Homo sapiens: one gene and its partner. The protein of the gene in region 1 interacts with the protein of each later gene in a pairwise test. Each region holds a gene or a part of one and is shown in the gene's direction. Other genes may lie near its edges.

Region 1 (4,134 bases):
AGTTCTAGGTCACGTGCTTCTTATGAGAATCTAATGCCTGATGATCTGTCACTGTCTCCCACCATCCTAAGATGGAACTCTCTAGATGCAGGAAAACAAGCTAAGGGCTCCCACTGATTCTACATTATGTTGAGTTGTGTAATTATTTAATTATATATTACAATGTAATAATAATAGAAATAAAGTACACAATAAATGTAATGCACTTGAATCATCGCAAAACCATCCCCCTCCACAGTCCATGGAAAAATTGTCTTCCACAAAACCAGTCCCTGGTGCCAAAAAGGACTGGGACCACTGCTTCATAGCATATGAAGTTGTATACCTGAGTATGAAATAAAATTTATAAATTATATTATTCAGATTATGCCTTTTATTGACCACTTAATTTTTTGCTGCTGTTGTTTGACATGTAAGCATCCTCTTACCCCATAGAACTTTACTGTGATGTGAATATTTTATCCTTTTCAGTTCTAATTAATCATTTTTACCTTGAATTCTGTGTTTGCAGTTAATATTACCATTGCTACTTAATTTTGTTTGTATTTCTTAGACATATATTTTCTCATCTCTTTATTTTCTATATTGTGAAGACTTTTTGTTTGAGGTGTTTTGTTTTGAACAATAATTTAGTGATGTTTTCTTTTGCCCCAATCTGATTATGTTTGTCTCTTTATAGAGAAATTTAACACATTCACATTTGTTGTGGTATTTGTATTTTATTTGGTCCCTATTGCTTTTTGCAGAGTGGGGGTGAGCTGGAGGGAAGTAAGGTTTTCTTTTTTTTCTTTTCTGTCTTGCTGTATTGATCAAATTTTCTTTATTTGTCTCCCTTCCTGCTAGAGATTGAGAAGTTCTACTGCTCAGTTTCCCCTACCCCCCAAAATCATACATGGGTGTATAATTTCTAAGGCAAAACTTTTAAAATTCACAGTTGCCACATAGGTGCCATAATTTAACTATGCTTAGAATGCTACAGTCTATGATCTTTTTCTCTCAGAGTTCTGTAAATGTTACCTCACAGTATTCTGACATTTAGGGTTGATGATAATCACATTCTCTTTCTTTGGAAGATAATTTTTTTTTTTTGACATAGAAACTCTAAAGGTTTTCTCTTTATTTTTGGAAATTTTTTTTCAATGCCCAACTCTTTGTCTTATATTTTCCCCTTAAGCTTTGGAAAAATTATTTGCAAATGTTCTCATTTACTAATTTTGATGTTTGAAAGATTCACGCCACTGTGCATTCCTTCAGTGCATAGTAGACTTTGCATTGAGTTTTTATTTGGGTAATCAACTTTTTCATTTCCATAGTTTCTTGTTTTCATATTTCTCCTTTTTTACAAAAGCCTGCTGTTTTATAATCAATGAAGTGTACCTTCCTAACTTTTTAACATCTTTGTTGGAGTATAATTGACATGTAATTAACTGTATATGTTTAAAATATACAGTTTGATACGTTTTGACATATGTATGAAACTGTGAACCATGGAACTATCACCACAGTCAAGATAATGAACATATGCGTCCCTTACCAAAGTTTCTTTATTCTCCTTTTTAATCATTCCTGCCTCTACTGTCTTCAGGAAACCATGGATCTGCTTTCTGTCACTATAAATTAGTTTGTATTTTGTAGACTTTTAAATAAGTAGAATTATACTATGCACTCTTTTTAAAAACATATTTCTAGGCCAGGTTCAGTGGCTCACGCCTGTAATCCCAGCACTTTGGGAGGCTGAGGTGGGAAGATTGCTTGAGGCCAGGAGCTGCAGACCAGCCTGGGCAACATGGTGAAATTCCATCTCTACAAAAAAATTTAAAAATTAGCCAGGCATGGTGGCCTGTGACTGTGATTCCAGCTACTCAGGAGGCTGAGGCAGGGGGATCTCATGAGCCCAGGACATAGAGGCTGCAGTGAGCCATATTCACACCACTGCACTCCAGCCTGGACAACAGAGCAAGACCCTGTCTCAAAAATTAAGGAAAGAAAGAATTTTTTAAATTAAATAAATAGAAATGGAAACATATAGCCAGGCATGATGGCTCATGCCTGTAGTCCCAGCTACTCAGGAGGTGAGGTGGGAGGATCACCTGAGACTAGGAAGTCAAGGTTGCAGTGAGCCAAGATCAAGCCACTGCACTCCAGTGTGGGCAACACAGTGAGACCCTGTCCTCAAAATAAATAAATTTAATAAAAACATTTCTAAATGAAAATTTCAAACATACAGAAAAATAGAGAAAAATATAATGAACTACAGTACATCTATTACTTAAATTTATAATATTTGTTGGCGGTTCATTTATTTAATTTTTTAAAATAAATTGACTTTATTTTTAAGTTTTTGTAAGTTTTTCTAATTAATAGACTTTATAAACTGATATGGTTTGGATTTGTGTCCTCACCCAAATCTCATGTCAAATTGTAATCCCCAGTGTTGGAGGAGGAGCCTGGTGGGAGGTGACTGGTTCATGGGGGCAGATATCCCCCTAGGTGTTCTCATGATAGTGAGTTCGTTCTCACGAGATCTGGCTGTTTAAAGTGTGTAGCACCTTCCACTTTAGTCTTCTACTCTGGCCATGTAAAACGTGACTCCTTCCTCTTTACCTTCCACCATGATTGTAAGTTTCCTGAGGTTTCCTCAGCCATGCTTCCTGTACAGCCTGCAGAACTGTAAGCCAATTAAGCTTCTTTTCATTGTAAATTACCCAGTTTCAGGTAGTTCCATGCAATAACAGACTAATACATAAACCTAAATAGTAGTTTTAGGTTTACAGAAAAATTGAGCCAATATTATAGAGAATTCTTATAGATGCCCTTTGCCCTGCATACATTTTCCCCATTATTAATATTTGCAATAGTGTGGTATATTTGATACAAGTAGGGAACCAATATTGATATGTTATTTTTGACTAAAGTCCATACTTTATATTAGGGTTCATCCTTTATGTCGCACAGTTCTATGGGTTTTAACTGTGTAATTTTTGTTTGTTTGACTTCTTTCACTTACTATAATCATTTCAAGATTCATTCATGTTTTTATGTGTATCACATGTTTGTTCCTTTTTATTCCACCTTTTGTTTATTCACATGTTTGTGGACATTTGAGTTGTTTCCAACTTGGAACAAATTCAGATAAAGCTGCTATGAACATTCATGTGTAAGCCTTTGTGTACACATAAGCTTTTGGGAAAATACCTAGAAGTGGAATGACTGGGTTATATGGTAAGAGTACGTTTAACTTTCTGAGAAATTGGAAAACTGTTTTTCCAAAATAGTCATACTGTTTTTTATTCCGACCAGCAGCGTATGAGTTCTGGTTGCTCCACATCTTTGTCAACATCTGGGATTGTCAGTCTTTAATTTTAGCCATTTAACAGGTGTGTGATATCTAATTTTTAAAATTTGCATTTCCCTAATAATTAATGGTGATGAACATATTTCTTATACTTATTGGCTATCTGAATATCATCAATGGTAGGTACCCATTTTCACATCTTTTGTCCATTTTTGTATTGGTTTGTTTTCCTATTACTCTGTTTTGAGAGTTCTTTATATATTCTGGATGTAAGTCCTTTATCAGATATAAGATTTAAAAATTGTTTTTTCTTTCTCTTAACATTGTCTTTCAAAGATCAGAAGCTTTTAATTTTGATAAGTTCAACTTACCAATTTTTTAATGGATCAAGCTTTTGGTATTTTATCTAATAACTCTTTGCGTGACCCAAGGACACAAAAATACTTTATGTTTTTTTCCAGAAATTTTATCTTTTTATGTTTTATTTACATTTAGGTTTGTGATTCATTTTGAGATAATTTTTGTATATGGAGTAAGATATAGATTCAGGTTTATGATTTTTGCATATGGATATCCATTTGTTCTCACACCATTTGTTGAAAAGAATATTCTTCCTCCATTGATTTATCTTTGCACCTTTATCAAAAATTAATTGACCAGGCTGGGCATGATGGCTCATGCCTGTAATCTCAGCACTTTGGGAAGCCAAGGATCACTTGAGGCCAGGAGTTCGAGACCAGCTAGGAGTTCGAGGCCTCTCTAGAGACAGGGAGACCTTGTCTCTTTGAAAAAAAAAAAAGGCATGGTGACACACATCTGTGGCTCCAGCTACTCAAGAG
Region 2 (3,600 bases), on another chromosome or scaffold:
TTTGGACTGGAGTTTGCAGGTTATGAAGAAAAATAATCATTTCAATCACTTTCCAAGCATTGAAATCAAAGCACTTGATTATCCTCATTGCTTCTTGCTGAGAGAGGTAGGACTGTTGGCCGCATTTTGCAGAGGAAGAAACAGAGAGTGATTTGTTCAGGTCTACACAGCAAGTCAGTGATAAAACCAGAAAAAGAACTTGAGTCTTCCAAATCAATAGTTTTTACTGTCTTCAATTGGAAGGAGGACTCTTGTAGAAAAGCAGGCTTGAGAGAGAGAAAATCTAGATCAGATAAAGTTAAGCAGGAATCTTACTGTTCTTTTTAGCTTGGGGTTTTGGCATATTTAGTTTTTAAATATCTTCCTTTTCTGTGATAACTTTCTGACTTTTTTACATGGTTCCTTAGTCTCACCTCTTCTTGATTATCGGTTTCTTTATAGAAATACTTCCTTTCTTTCATTTAATTTCTCCTCTTTTGCATCAGTATTAAATACACATGAATTCTTCATTTCTTCAGTGCCACCTGTTATGAGTGTTTATTTCTGCATGCTTTTGTTAATGAGAATGTCCTTATTTTTAAACAGTCCCAGACCTCTTTTCTGCATCAGAGGGCATGCTGGTTCCATAAGTCCCAGTGGCTTTTTTCTTGGTTTGCTGCCATAACTTTACAGATAAATATTGGGTGTTCAAAGCAAATGCTCTTCAGAGAGAGAAAGGCTGGGAATAGAACTGTGCTGCTTATTCTATCCTGAAAACACGAAGCCTGGGGAAGTCATCTATATGGCCTTGACCACATTTCTGTAATTAATACCTACTTAGGTTTGCTTTTAAGGAATGGATAAAATGATTGTAATGATCGTCCTTTCAATCTTTTCCACCACAGAGATGCTAACAGGCCTTTCTTGGTTTTGCCTCCTTTAGGGGAATGTGACCCTGAAGGAGCTGAATGCTCGCCCCATGGAAGTGTTCATGTGCAGTGTGCTCAAGAGGCAAGGTTACGGCGAGGGTTTCCGCTGGCTCTCCCAGTATATTGACTGATGTTTGGACGGTGAAAATAAAAGAGTTTTACTTCTCTGGACTGATCCTATTCACAGCTTCCTCATGAACTTTTCTAATAGAACAAGGAAAGCTCTCCAACCATGTCTGGCGTTGAGAAGCCAAGAGTCTCTGTCAACTCTCTCATTGCCCAGTGGTGACATGTGCTCTTCTCCACACTGTTGGGAGGTAATGCTGCCCCACGTGCTGGTGCAGGTCAGTATCCTGGGACTTGGAAGCTGGCAGGATTTGCCGGGTAAAGCTGTATGCCATCATGGGGCACCTGAAAAGAAAAACACGTCTCACCACTGTGGTTGATTCAAAAGAAAGTGATTCTATTTTTTAAAGAAAGCGTTGTTAATGTAATTGGTATCCCTCCTAACTTTTTGAGTTCACAATTTACTTGGTCCAGAGTTTTCTATTCTTTTTTTTTTTTAAACTAATGAATGACATTTAGATACTTCATAAAATTATGAACAGATATGGAGGCCAGAGCTCATTTGGGTAAACTTACTCCTGCTGAGTTAGCAGGTTGGTGAGAGAAGCTCCCCTGAGCTCACCTGTCTCTCTGACTGCCTTGGAGTAGGTGGCATAACCTTGTGCACAGAGAACTAGAAAAGGGGCAGAACCCCGGCCTTGCAGTTGTGGCAGGTTTCCACTGTGGTAAGCTAGGTTCATTCCTCATCAAGGAATGTGTAGCAGATTGTTCACTGTGGAGGAGTTAATTATAGAATGGGTTATTGTTGTTATTCTTACTCATGAAGTTACAGATTTTAGCCAGTCTTTGCTTTTATACTTTTGTGAAATTTAATTTCTCTCTATAGCACCTTCCTTTTTCGTTTTCAGTTATCAAAAGTGACTTTGACCTCATAAAAGAGTTGAGAACATCTCTCGTGTCACATACTGCAGGTGCATCAGTTACTTTTGCACAGATTCTAGGGGGACATTTTTCTGAATAGGAAGACAGGACAAAGTTAACAGCTTAAGGGCTCTTAATTCTGTGAGTTGAGGACTTAAAAGTATTGTAGCATTTGTTTGGATCCATGAAAAATGTATTCAGTGGGCTTTAAAATTTCCATTTGCAGAATTTGGTCTCTCAGGCTGTTTGGGAGCTCTTTTTTTTACATTTTTTCTCCTTTGACACCTATTTTATTGGTGTTTAAAGTAAAGGTTAACATCTGTAGCTTTTCCAGGTTTTTTTTTTTTTTTTTTTTTTTTTGGTATGAAATTGTCTTTCTCCATTGCAGAAATAAGCTAGGGAAACACTAACCCAAAAACTTTCTGTAGAGCTGTTCCTTTGGAGGCAGCATCACTTATTGGCAGTAAAGACTCAGTATAAAAGCACCGGCATCCCTACTTGGGTGATGGGGATTAATTTTATAGCATTCCATTTTCCTAGTGCCACATGTGAAATTGGATTTTGATGATCTTAATCTATATTCTACCCTTATAATAAAAGATCAAAAGATATATCTCCTATGAACAGATTGGAGATAGGAGATGAAAAGTTGGGAGGATGTCTTTATTCTAATGTGAGGGTAGGGAAAATGTGGATAACATTACTGGGGTGAGGGAGGCATTGTTCTTTAGTTGGAGTTCTCATTCTTATTCTCCAGTACTGACTTGTGGGGAAAGCATACTTTTTCACTGCCAGGTACTGAATGCAGAGGCTCAGTGAAGTATATATGTGGGAAGTGCATGCATTTCGTTTATTAGCAAACATAGCTGGATTAAGACAAAGTTGTTGGTTTGGAAAGGGGTTAAAGCCTTAAGTGAACAAATCTAGCTAACAGTGAATGAACTAGGTAATATAACTTGCATATTTTTAATTTCCTTTGGTTAAAGGTCCCCCATACTTCTCTGTTCGGAGACATGAGAAGTATGATTACTTCAGTGTTAGTTTTCTTAATTTTTTTTTTCCCCTATTTGTCCCTTGTCACTTTGTTGCAAGCTAGAAATCTGTGGGTTATACATAGGGCAGCTCTTTGTGAAAGTGGTTTATTCCACTGGAGAAAGGGGATTGAAAATCAGTTAGAACCAATGTATTTCTTGCCCCACGGAACACTATTCCTATAAGATAGCTGAAAGAAGCTGCTGTGAGGAGCTCAGCTCCAAACACAGGATCAGCACCTTGTATAGGAATTCCCATGAATTATGACTTCTCATTCTGTTTTATCAGAGTGCATATATGTCCTACTTCAGGAAAAGTAAAACAGTCATTTACGAAAGAAAGTCAATCTGTATCCTAAGCATTTTAATAAAAAGTTAAAACAAATACGCTATTTCCTTTTTTTTTTTTCATTGGTTTGTTCTGAGCTCTGAGTTTGAACAATGCCGTTTATTTGGGGAGGCAACCAAAAGTTCCCTGCATAGAGGAAGAGACATTTAGGGTGCGTGTGAGATACTTGAATTTTGCCACCAGGAGGGGGAAAAAGGCTGGGGTACTAGAAGTAATAGATTTAGTACTACTTGAGAGATTTGGAACATGCTGTGGACCCAGGGTTGTTGGTCATCTCTGCAACAGGATGGGGATGGCAGATGTTTGAGCAAAATCTATATTAACA

The links.
Region 2: the proteins of TMEM267 (region 1) and SAR1A interact in binary tests that used the Homo sapiens proteins (3 or more experiments, as listed by UniProt).

Annotation. Positions count from the first base shown.
Region 1 is NC_000005.10:43,455,956-43,460,089, reverse strand, and holds part of TMEM267 (transmembrane protein 267), read left to right. Parts: intron 1-4,134.
Region 2 is NC_000010.11:70,149,915-70,153,514, reverse strand, and holds part of SAR1A (small COPII coat GTPase SAR1A), read left to right. Parts: intron 1-922; coding exon 923-1,039; 3' UTR 1,040-3,600. UniProt on the Homo sapiens protein: Small GTPase that cycles between an active GTP-bound and an inactive GDP-bound state and mainly functions in vesicle-mediated endoplasmic reticulum (ER) to Golgi transport.